Linked DNA regions of Homo sapiens. The protein of the gene in region 3 interacts with the protein of the main gene of each other region in a biochemical or structural test. Each region holds a gene or a part of one and is shown on either strand. Other genes may lie near its edges.

Region 1 (3,827 bases), on a different chromosome or scaffold from region 3:
AAACTTAACTAGTGCTAGTAAACTTTGTTTCAAAACAAATAAACATAAAATTTCTTTTTATAAAACCTCCAACCTTTTCTTTGTTTTCTAGACACATTGAAGACCACCTAGTCTGTGTATATGCCTCAAACTGCAATTCTTGCTTCCTCAATAAAATGTTGAATTTAGAGATTTGTCTCTACATTTTTATTTTGACTTCAACACACTATACTGAATGAAGCTGTACCTGTTTTTTATTTTAGCTTTATTCTATTAGTGATTATTAATGAACGGTAGAAGCTTATAAACTATTAAGTACAGGTAAAACCATCAGATTCTATAACCTATTTTAATAACTCTGAGATCTTATTAGTCATAACCTGATGAGGTACAAACTCCCGTTAAATTATGTGTATATTTTAAAAACTAAACTTAGCAAGAACTTTAAGGAGAATTAAATTTGTGAAAAACAAACTTTTATAATCTTATTACCATAATACTATTATTATTATTTCTCTATATATTTATTTTCCATCTTCATCCTTAAAACAATCCTCTGTCCTGGAGTTGTATTATTAATCTTTGTTTAATAAATATTGATATTTTAAAATTCAATTAATTTTTCCATTTTCTGAAAACTCTTCAAGTAGTGGACCCTCACAATATCTAGCAGTAGTATAACATTTAAATTGGCTTCAAAGTCCTTTTTTTATATTAAATTTTTATATTCTTTATATTAAAACTTGTGTATGATGTGGCCTCTTTGTTTCCACCTAATGCTTCATATGGCCAAAATATTAATCAAACAAAATAAGTTTTTGGCATTGGCATCAACTTAAAAATCTGGTTAAACAACACAAGCATATAAAGATTTGAAGAAAGCAAAACCATTAGTTACCTGAACCTTCCAATTCTTCTTAGATGTGAAAACATTTCACCCCCAGGGACATATTCCATAACCATGTATAAATTAGAATTATCCTATGAACAAATAAAAAGGAAATACAATTATTCAACTTAGGTCAAAATTATTTTAATATTATATAATGCTGAATTAGAAAAATTTAAAATCTCTCTGACAGATTAATAACCTTGAGAAATAAAGAATAAATGGAACATGCTCTAGCTTTTCTATACAGAGACACTCATATTTTTCCCCTCCTAGTTATTTTTGCCACAAACTAGTCTGGGACTTTTGCTCTTCCTTTTCTTGCAGAGAACATCTAGTTCTCAAACAATTAAATACTCAGGCAATGAAGTAACGTTATAATATATGCAAAAGAATAACAAAGGTAAAAAACAATTTAAAAAGTTAATAAGAATATTTACATTTTATGTATAAAAGATTAATGGTTTTAATATTTTAAATACATAGGTCTTCATTTAATTTAAAGAATAAAGGAGAAAAAAGATTAAAATGTTTCATATGATTCAATATTGCAGAGAGATGCCAGTATCATTCCAAAGAGCTCAAAAGTGACCAATTTAAATAATAAATGTGGTACAATTTTTCAGACATTTGAATAGTGGAACAAAAATTTTGCTTTGTATAAGTGAAAAGACTAGAACTCAAATTACTAAGTAAAAGAAGATGAGATAGTGGCAAAAAGGGCTTAATCAAAGTAGAAAATGTGTTGGGTGTATGAATTTGCATAAGAATTGTTATTAAGATATCCCTATGGTTTTTGATAAATTGAAATATTTCTTTTTGTAATACCATCTCATGAGTATCACCTTTGAACAATTTCCCCAGGGAGAATCAAAACCTTTTCAAACGTTACCTAAGTTATAAGCACAATAGGATTTAATTACACAAACTCTAGAGGTATTCGTTTTGTTTATTCATATTCTTCAGGCTTATCATCTGGTTTAGAATCCATTTATAGTTTCATCTTAAAAAAAATTTAGGTTGAAAATATCTTATTTAGATATTACTAAAATTTACCTTAAAAGCATACTCCAGTCGAACAAGGAAAGGAAAATTCACTGCCTGTAATATTCTTTTCTCATTCAAAGTATGCTCTATTTGCTTCAGTTTAACAACCTGTAATTGAGAGATAAATATCTCTTAATGTATTTAAGCAAAATTAAAAAGTTATCATTTAAAAAAATGTTTTCCATATAGTAATAAACTTGGATAAGCAAAATTGTTAGAATTGGATAAGGAAGATAATAACAATTACCAACTTTTAGGTTGGTGCATAAGTAATTGCGGTTTTTGCCATTACTTTTAATAATAGGATTCAAATGAAAACCTAATAGAGGATTTAAAACTTGGTCTTAGGAAGGTCAATTATGGTTTCAATTAAGAAGTGAGAGCTAAGTAGGAATAAGAAACAAACTCATAAGAAATTACTTTAAAAATTAGTTATGTCAATTATGCTTAAATAAATATATAATTACTTAAGGTAATTTAAAAATGAATGTGAAAATACTAAGGTCCTAATGACTTAAAGTCCTCTATAAAAGCTGGCTCAAATCTCTGCAATAAGTAGATAGTGATTTTAAATACTTCAGAAGATGAATAAGAAAATTAAAAATGAAGAGAAAGTCCATAACTGAAAAATAGTGAGTAAAAATGAACAATTTTCATTTTATAATATCTAAATAAATATAGGTATAAATTCTAAAAATTTATTTTATATTGCCATAGAAGAGGACACACAAAATATTGGGGAAAAAACTATCTTTATAACAAAAACTATCTTTGTATCCTAGGTCATTTAGACTTAAGCTTCCTCTAGATTTTCTATTTAATAGAAGGGGAAAGTAATTTATCTTGACTTCACGAAGACTGTGATTCTATTCCATATGTGATTCTATTTTGAATTTAAGAAGTGGTGACTTTAGCAAGACATATAAATAATTTTCTTGTATATGTGTAAATCATTAGAAGGTGGCATTCTTTCTTGCTGGAGTCTAATGGTCAATGTGAGGATAGTCACAGAAGTCAAGAAGTTAAATATAAATAACAAAAGTAATTAAAGATACCAGCCAGGTATTAATATATAAAATTAGGAGTATACTGATAATATTGAGCAAATAAATTGAGTAGGAGTCAGATTTGTGTTTTAATCTAGGCCTTTTATTTAACTAACTTTCTGACTTGAGATGATTTCAAATCTTTGGGCCTCAGGTTTTCAAAATTTGTAACATGAAGTGGTTGGATCACTACTGTACACATTTTAACTTCTGTAATAGTTACAAAACAAATTAGTCCATAATTGTCACAATAAATTATAGTTGTCCATCAGTATCCCTGGGGGTTGGTTCCAGGACCTACAGCAGAAACCAAAATGCCCAGGTGCTCAAGTCCCTTATATAAAATGACAGAGGCTTTGCATAAAGCCTATACACACTGTCCATATACTTTAAATCATCTCTAGATTACTTATAATACCTGATATATTGTAAATGCTATGTAAATAGTTGTTACACTGTATTGTTTAGGGAATAATAACAAGAAACAAAAGTCTGTACATGTTAGGTATAGATGTAATTTTTTTCCCAAATATCTTCAATCTGTGATTGGTTAAATCCATGGACGTGGAACCCATAGATATGGAAGGGCTGACTGTATACTAACTATGTATAATATAGTTACAATAAAAATTTAGTTACAATAAAAATTAAATTTAATAATAAAATTATTTGAAGCTGTCAATGGTAAGTCATTATACTGAATCTGTTTAATAGTCTAGCTGATAAAACTAAAGTTTACCCTGAAGGTAAATAACAACAAATACACTCACCTTCTGCTTATCTAAGATCTTCATGGCATAATACTGTTCAGTGGCTTTGTGTTTTACCAACATGACTCTTCCAAATGAACCTGTTCCAAGGGTTTT
Region 2 (3,827 bases), on a different chromosome or scaffold from region 3:
GTGGTCTCGCTATGTTGCCCAAACTCCAGGACTCAAGCAGTCCTCCCACCTTTGCCTCCCAAAGTGCTGGGATTACAGGGGTAAGCCACCACGCCCGGCCTCCCCATCCTGTTCCATCCTGACCCAACCATGCAGCCCCACATCTGCTCCACAGGTGGGGATCTTCATCCTACTTCACAAAGAGGGAGACTAAGGCCGGTGGTGGCATGTCCTTGCCTAAGGTCACACAGCAAGAGAAAGTAAGGGTCTGGCTGGCTCTCTGGACCGGAGGTGGGTGGCCCTCTTGCCACGCCCTTTCCCTGCCCCACCCTCTTGTCTATGGGTTCCTGGCCCCGCCCCTTCTTGGAACCCCTTGGGCTCCACCCCCCAGGTTCCCTGGGGCCCCTTAAGCCGGTAGCCCACCCTCTGCCCTCCGACGAGCATCCACCGCACTGGGTGGGCTGGCTCAGCCACCACACCCCAGCCAAGCACGGGAGGAGGATAAGGTGAGCAGGGGCTGGGTCCCAGGGTGCCGGGACCATCCTAAGGCCACACCCCAGGGAACACGAGGGCTGGGGCCTCTGCTCACTCAGCCCTCCACCAGCCAAGAGGCCCTGCAAAGGTCTGGCCCGCCCCACCCCCACTGCACAGAAGCCGCAGGGCTGCAGGGAGCCGTCAGGCCAGCCACACCCGCACAGCTGCCCTCACCGCCCCCTCATTCTGCTCAGAAGGGCCTGCATGTCTACCTACAGGCAGGGGCCGCACCCTGGGCCCTGGCCTGTGCCGGCCACAGAGCACCACCTGTCCAATGCGCTGGGGCTCCGCTGAAGCCCCGCTGATCGGAGGGAAGTTAGGGACCAGGTAAGAGGACAGCCTCCTGCAGGCCCACCCCAGCAGCAGAAAGGATGGAGGGAGAGGTTCTAGGTCCACCCCAGCAGCAGGAAAAAACAGAGGGCATCAGGGGCTCCAGGTTCCCCAGAAAGAGGGGCAAAAGGAGAAGGGGAGACAGTGGAACAGAAACCACATTAGCACAGCCTCGTCCTAGGGTTTACAGGGCTCGTCCTCACACAGCCTTGCAAATAAGCAGGGCGCTTACCAGCCCGCCTGGAACAAATGCAGGAAGCCGGGAGGCTCCTTCTCAATGAGACTTCCAATGGCTGCGCAGGGCTTAACTGGCGGCAGCCACGGGGCCACGTGTGAATGCACGTCGGCCTTAATCCTCCTGGCAACTCCATGAAATTTACACTAACCTCATCCCCCAAGCCAGAGAAGAAAGGGAGCTTCCCAGCCATTCCTGGGCCCAGGGCCACACAACTGCCGCCATCTGTACCACGACTCAGTCCCCATCAGCCTGTTGCGTTCAATCCTGGAACTGGTTTGATGCAAAGGTTTAGGCCAGCCAGTGAGGCACCCACCGCGGGGGGCCAGGCACCCTTGGATGAGTGCCTTCCCTGCAACCTTCCTCAGTTTCCCCACCTGTCAAAAGGGCCCAGCCTCTCCGCTCCGCCAGGATGTTGAAAGGATTTAGGGGCCTGGTGCCACGTAGACATCAGGCCACACCCCAGCAGGGAGGGATAGGGGAAAGGGGTGTCGTCCCCCCAGTAGAGCAGGGCCCCTCCTGGCTCCAAGGCCCTCGCTTGGCCTTGGAGTCTCTAATTAGAGCTGTGTTACTATGGGAACAGTGTTTTCTTCAGGATTTTTCTTTTCATCAACAGAGGCACAGAAATCCTGAGTCACAGGCCCACAGAAGCCCCCGGGAGCCAGGAGATTAAGAGTCTCCTGTGCCGGGCCCACGGGTACCTCTCCCTCCTCCTTCCAGAGAGGTCTAGCCCTGCCTGTCCTCCCCTCACAGTGGCCTTCCCTGTTTCCAGCCTTTGAGCCATCCTCTCTTTTTTTTTTTTTTAACTTTTTTCTTTTAATTATTTTAATTACAGTTTTTTGTTTGTTTGTTTTGGTTGTTTTTTTTGTTTTGTTTTGTTTTTTGAGATGGAGTTTCACTCTTGTTGCCCAGGCTGGAGTGCAATGGTGCGATCTCGGCTCACTGCAACTTCCGCCTCCCGGGTTCAAGGGATTCTCCTGCCTCAGCCTCCAGAGTAGCTGGGATTACAGGCATGCGCCACCACGCCCGGCTAATTTTTGTGTTTTTAGTAGAGATGGGGTTTCTCCATGTTGGTCAGACTGGTCTCAAACTCCCGACCTCCAGGTGATCCACCCACCTTGGACTCCCAAAGTGCTGGCATTACAGGCGTGAGCCACCGCACCAGGCCAAAAAAAATTTTTTTAAGACAGGGTCTCGTTCTGTTGCCCAGGCTGGAGTGCAGTGGCACGATCTCGGCTCACTGCAGCCTCAAACTCCCCGGCTCAAGTGATCCTCCCATCTAAGCCTCCTGAGTAGCTGGGACGACAGGCGTGCATCACCATGCCTGGCTAATTTTTTGTATTTTTTGTAGACAGAGGTTTTGCCATGTTTTCCAGGCTGGCCTTGAACTCCTGGGCTGAAGCCATCTTCCCTCCTTGGCCGAAGCCATCTTCCCTCCTTGGCCTCCCAAAGTGCTTGGATTACAGGCGAGAGCCAGTGTGCCTGGCCTTCTGAACCATTCTGTCTGTGGTGGCTCAGAGGGGCACCCCCTGGTTGCCTCACACCCTCCAGTCCCCATCACCACCCCCAGGCCTTAACGGTCCCCAGATGCCCCTGGCTTGTTCAAAACAGGCACTCCTTCCATCTCATTTAGGGGAGGGGGCCTGGAATGTTCTATGGCTTCACCTTACCACCCCGGTTTCCAGTCGATTCCTGCAACTACTTGGCCATTTCAAATGCCTCTGCATCCTTATACAAGCCATTCCCTGGGCTCAGAATGCCCTGCGCCTCGTGGGGAGAACTCTTACACATCCTGCAAAGCCCAGCTTGACGAGCCCTTCCTCAGTCAGCCCTCCTCAGAGTGGCTGGGAGAGGGCATGTCCCAAGCCAGCAGGGAGGACAGGTCCTATCCCTGGCATGGATCCCCAGATGCAAGCACAGGCTGGCGGGAGAGGACTCCCAGATGTGAGAGATGTGAGAGAAGACAGGAAGTGTGGTGAGGCATGGCCCAGGGTCGGGGCCAGGGTAGGTGTGGATCCTGGGGAGCAGGGAGGAGCCTGGGGCATGGCGGGAGGACAAAGGAGCACTCACTCAGCTGACCCAGCCTCTGGTGTGAAGGGCTGAAAGCCCCTGCCCAGGGCAGCTCTGGGCCAGCCCAAGGAGGCCTGGAATGCACACTTTACAGATGGGGAAACTGAGGCTGAAGAGCAGGGCGCAGCGTTTTTCAAAGGGGAGCACCCTGCCCCCACCGGGCCCGCCCGTGCAGGCCTGCAGAGATGATTCACATCCCCCCTGCCAGCTAAGTCCGGATCCTCCCCTTCCTGGCTGGCGTTCCCCAGCATGTGTGTCGGAAGCAGACGCCTCCCCCTTGCCACGCAGGCCCGTCCAAAATGGCCTCTGCAGACACGCCCCCCACGCCCACCCCTGCAGACTCCAGTTCCCAAAAGCCCCCCGGGAGTTGGCTGACATAGAAACGAGATAAGGACCCCAAGATCTGAGGCCAGAGGAGCCCCAACCTCGGCCCCCAAGTACCCCCACCCCCGCGCCGTCCCACATCCCTTTCAACTCCAAGCTGAGCCATCACCACCACCTCTCCTGGCTGCAATTTCTGGTTCCTCCCACCCTATCAGCCTGAATCACACACCAGACGCCCCCAGCAAGCTTCTCAGGAGAGGGGAGTTATCTGCCCAGGCTCGCCAAAAACACCCTCAGGCTCTCTGCAACTTCCTGGCCCCCAGGGCCAAGGCCACCTACTTCTGCGACTTCTTCC
Region 3 (3,600 bases):
AGGCAAGTGAGGGACAGTGTGCCCGTGCAGGCTGCTGGGGGTGTGAGGTCAGAGCTTCAGCTGCTGACCTTCTGCAAAGTTCATCCTGGGGTTACAGCAACTCCTGGAATCCCAAGGATATACCACATGGGGAAGGTGGCCAGAGGCCCAGCGGAGGGCCTACCAACAGGGATGTCATGAATGGTTGGACAGGTTGTAGCTTGCACAGGGCTCCCAGCCAACGGGGCAAGTAGAGCTGAAACCTATCCCAAACTCCATTTGCTAAGCTTTGCACCTGCTGGGTTGTATCTACCCAGAGGAGGGCCTTTTTCTAACAAAGGCCAGCAGGGCCTTACTCCAGGTCCTTAATTCCACATATTAAATAATAAATGGAAGATGTCCATGCCCAAGAGCAGAAAGGAGAGGGCCAGGGTCTTGGGTTTGAATCCTGACTCTACACTGGGGGTCTTGCTTGCCCATCTTCCCTCTGAGTCTTCATTTCTCTACAGAGATGGCAACAGCCTGGTGCCAGGGCAAAAGGCCAGCCATTTGGCAAAAGCCTCGCACCAAGATGGAGAGAAAGGGAGAACTGTTATCAATGATGGGACAGTGGCTGCTCTCACCACCCAGCAGCCCTGCCCTGCCACGGTTTGATTTCCAGCCACCAGTCCTCCCCCTCCCCCATGTGGCCACTGGGAACAGGGCTGGAACCAAGGGAAAGGGGAGTCAGGTTCCTGCCACTGAAGCATCTTTGCTCGTGGATGTAACAATTTAACACCAGATTCCCCAGGGGAAGGGGCTGGTGGAGGCTTGCTTTATATTTCTGTTCCTTTAAAAAAAACTTAATGTCTAATAAAACTCCAAAGCCTGCTTTGCTAGCTCCAGACCATGCAGCCCTCATTTGATGCTGAGAAGTATGGGCTTTGGGGTCGTGGGACCAGAGGGAAGCTTTACAAGCTTGTTTTGGGCATTCTGCTTCTTCTACATTGGCCAGATCATGGCCAAGACACTCCTTTCCCTCCAGCCTTTTAAAATATCCTGCGGCCTCATCAGGGTTTGGTGGGGAAGGAAACAGAGGAGTCAGGGGGATAGACAGGTTGGATCAACCCAGGAGGGAGTCTGTGGTCCTCATGAGACCAGCAGGACAGGCACAGGCAACAGAGGAGGTGGAACCTTGGTGTTGCCGCACCTCCTCCAGGGCAGCAACACACTCAGTGCTGGGAACATCTGCAGACCAGGAGCCTCAGGGTCCCAGATGCAGGCTTTCCCTCAAGAGGCAAGATTCCAGAAGGGCCTGTTCTGATTTCTTTTCATCCTTTAGGGCTCTGCTTAAATGTCACTTCCTCAAGGAAGTGGTCCTGTTGCACCCACCGCTCACAGATTAGGTGGGGCTGCCATGTTACGCATCCAGCCTGTTCTCCGGTTCTCTCTGCTTTTGTCTGGCCTGAACTTTATAGACTCCCTCATTGGACTGTCAGCTCCCTGAGGGAGCTGGATTGCCCCAGGGCCTGATGCGGTATCTGGCATGCAGTAGGGACACAATGCATACACGCGTGGAGTTGAAATACATGAAAATACTGTATGACCTCAATTAACCAGAACTCTGGGAGAGCGACTGTTGGTTAGCCGAGATTCCAGACTGCCAGGCTTTGCTGCCCTCATCATTTTTGCTTTTCACCATGGTGGCTGCACCCTTCCCTGTCTCTGGAGCAAAGCTTCATGGCTTCCCATGACTCAGGGACTCTGTATTTACACCAGCGATTACTCTGGGCTGCAATACAGGGAAACTCTTTTGTTCTTTTCCCAAATTACCACACTTTTGTCTTTTTGAGTTCTCCTGTCAGCCTTTTTTTTTTTTTTAATATAGCTTTTCTGTTTCCTCCCTTCCTGTCAAGGTATCAGTTGTCACTTCTTGCTGCTACCAGAGTGTGACCTGAAGCAACCCTTCCCCCACCACGCTAATCTATTTAAGGTCTAATTGAATCTTCAGAAACTGTGGAACTCGCCTTGGTAGAAAGGCATGTGCCGGCCGGGCGTGGTGGCTTACGCCTGTAATCCCAGCACTTTGGGAGGCCGAGGCAGGCAGATCACGAGGTCAGGAGATCGAGACCATCCTGCCTAACATGGTGAAACCCCATCTCTACTAAAAATACAAAATATTAGCCAGGCGTGGTGGCGGGCGCCTGTAGTCTCAGCTACTCAGGAGGCTGAGGCAGGAGAATCGCTTGAACCCAGGAGGCAGAGGTTGCAGTGAGTCGAGATCGTGCCACTGCACTCCAGCCTGGGTGGCAGAGTGACAGTCCGTCTCAAAATAAATAAATAAATAAATAAAATAAAAATAATAAAAAATATAAAGGTATGTAAATAGGATCTGAACCAGGAGGAGGCAAGCCTCTGAATACAATCTGTGAGCTCTCACGCCACTCTGAATCCTGGCTCCACACTTGTCCTGGGTCATAATTAGGTAATGATGACAGTACCTGCATCATAGGATTGCTGTAAGTATTACACAAGTAAATAAGGTATTTATGTACTTTGGGACCCCTCTTTTCTGTCCTCCAGGGTCTACTTTGTGGCCATTGGCTGTGTTCCAGTTTGTTGGGCTCTGGACAGCTGAGGAGATCTGTCTACAGTGGTCTTGGGTGGTGTGGGGGCTTTGTGCAAATGCCCCTGCCAAGAAACCTGTTCTCCCTGCTGCAGCCTGAGGTCCTCTCTCTTCTCTTAAAAACTGCATTTGGAGTAGGGGCCAGATAATTAGTAACCATGCATTTCCTGTCCTTGTTTTATGTTCCCTATGTTGTAAAATCCTAGATCTGCTTCTTAATAGTATGTTGCTTAGGGTAAATTACTTAATTTCCCTAAACCTCAGTTTTTCTCACCTAAAACATTGGGTTGATAATGTCTATTGCCCAGGATTGCTGGGAGAATTAAGTGAAATAATTTATGCAAATATGTCTGGTCTACAGTAGGAATTTAATAAATGTTAGTTATCAAAGAAGCATCTCATCTTAAGGAGACCCCAGGCAGGAGGGGAGAGTTTAGCCAAGTAGGGAGGGGTGACTAACATTCAGGCTAATTGCTCCAAAATCAGATCCAAAAGGATTAATTTATAGGGATGACAGATAAATTTCCCTGAAATTTGTATGTGTTACACTTAGTCATTTCACATTTGACAGAATGATTTCATCTCATTTTTAAGAACGCTTGTAATCTTTTTGTTTTGGCCATTTCAAGGCTTACAAGGAACTAAGGTGGAAGGATCCTTAGATGAATTGACTTTTAAGAATTTTCATTTTTTTTAATTAGAGAAAAGAGAGAAACAGCGAAACAGTTGAAAGTATTTGAAACCATACGAATGTTTCAGTATAATCAGCCCTGGCCATTCCAACAGCTTCAGCAAAGAGCTCTTAAGTGAATGGGGCCGTGGTCACCGCCATGGGATGGGAGAGATTTTCAAACACCTGGAGGGCCTTTTGAGGTCGATGCAAACCCAGGGGAGGCACTGGCACATACCCCTCACTCCCTTTGGATAGGGGAGGAGTTGGGAGGAAAGGAGCTAATTACCCAAGATAATGTAGCATAGAGACTTGAGAGGGGGCAGGGCCTCTGCGTGTGGAGAAG

Evidence for each region.
Region 1: of the proteins of NGFR (region 3) and PRKACB, one has a biochemical effect on the other in vitro, tested with the Homo sapiens proteins (one study listed by BioGRID).
Region 2: the proteins of NGFR (region 3) and FSCN1 form a complex in vitro, tested with the Homo sapiens proteins (one study listed by BioGRID).

The regions. Positions count from the first base shown.
Region 1 is NC_000001.11:84,182,233-84,186,059, reverse strand, and holds part of PRKACB (cAMP-dependent protein kinase catalytic subunit beta), read right to left. Parts: coding exon 3,732-3,827; intron 2,024-3,731; coding exon 1,925-2,023; intron 961-1,924; coding exon 878-960; intron 1-877. UniProt on the Homo sapiens protein: Mediates cAMP-dependent signaling triggered by receptor binding to GPCRs.
Region 2 is NC_000007.14:5,595,803-5,599,629, reverse strand, and holds part of FSCN1 (fascin), read right to left. Parts: intron 1-3,827. UniProt on the Homo sapiens protein: Actin-binding protein that contains 2 major actin binding sites. Organizes filamentous actin into parallel bundles. Plays a role in the organization of actin filament bundles and the formation of microspikes, membrane ruffles, and stress fibers.
Region 3 is NC_000017.11:49,498,293-49,501,892, reverse strand, and holds part of NGFR (tumor necrosis factor receptor superfamily member 16 precursor), read right to left. Parts: intron 1-3,600. UniProt on the Homo sapiens protein: Low affinity receptor which can bind to NGF, BDNF, NTF3, and NTF4. Forms a heterodimeric receptor with SORCS2 that binds the precursor forms of NGF, BDNF and NTF3 with high affinity, and has much lower affinity for mature NGF and BDNF.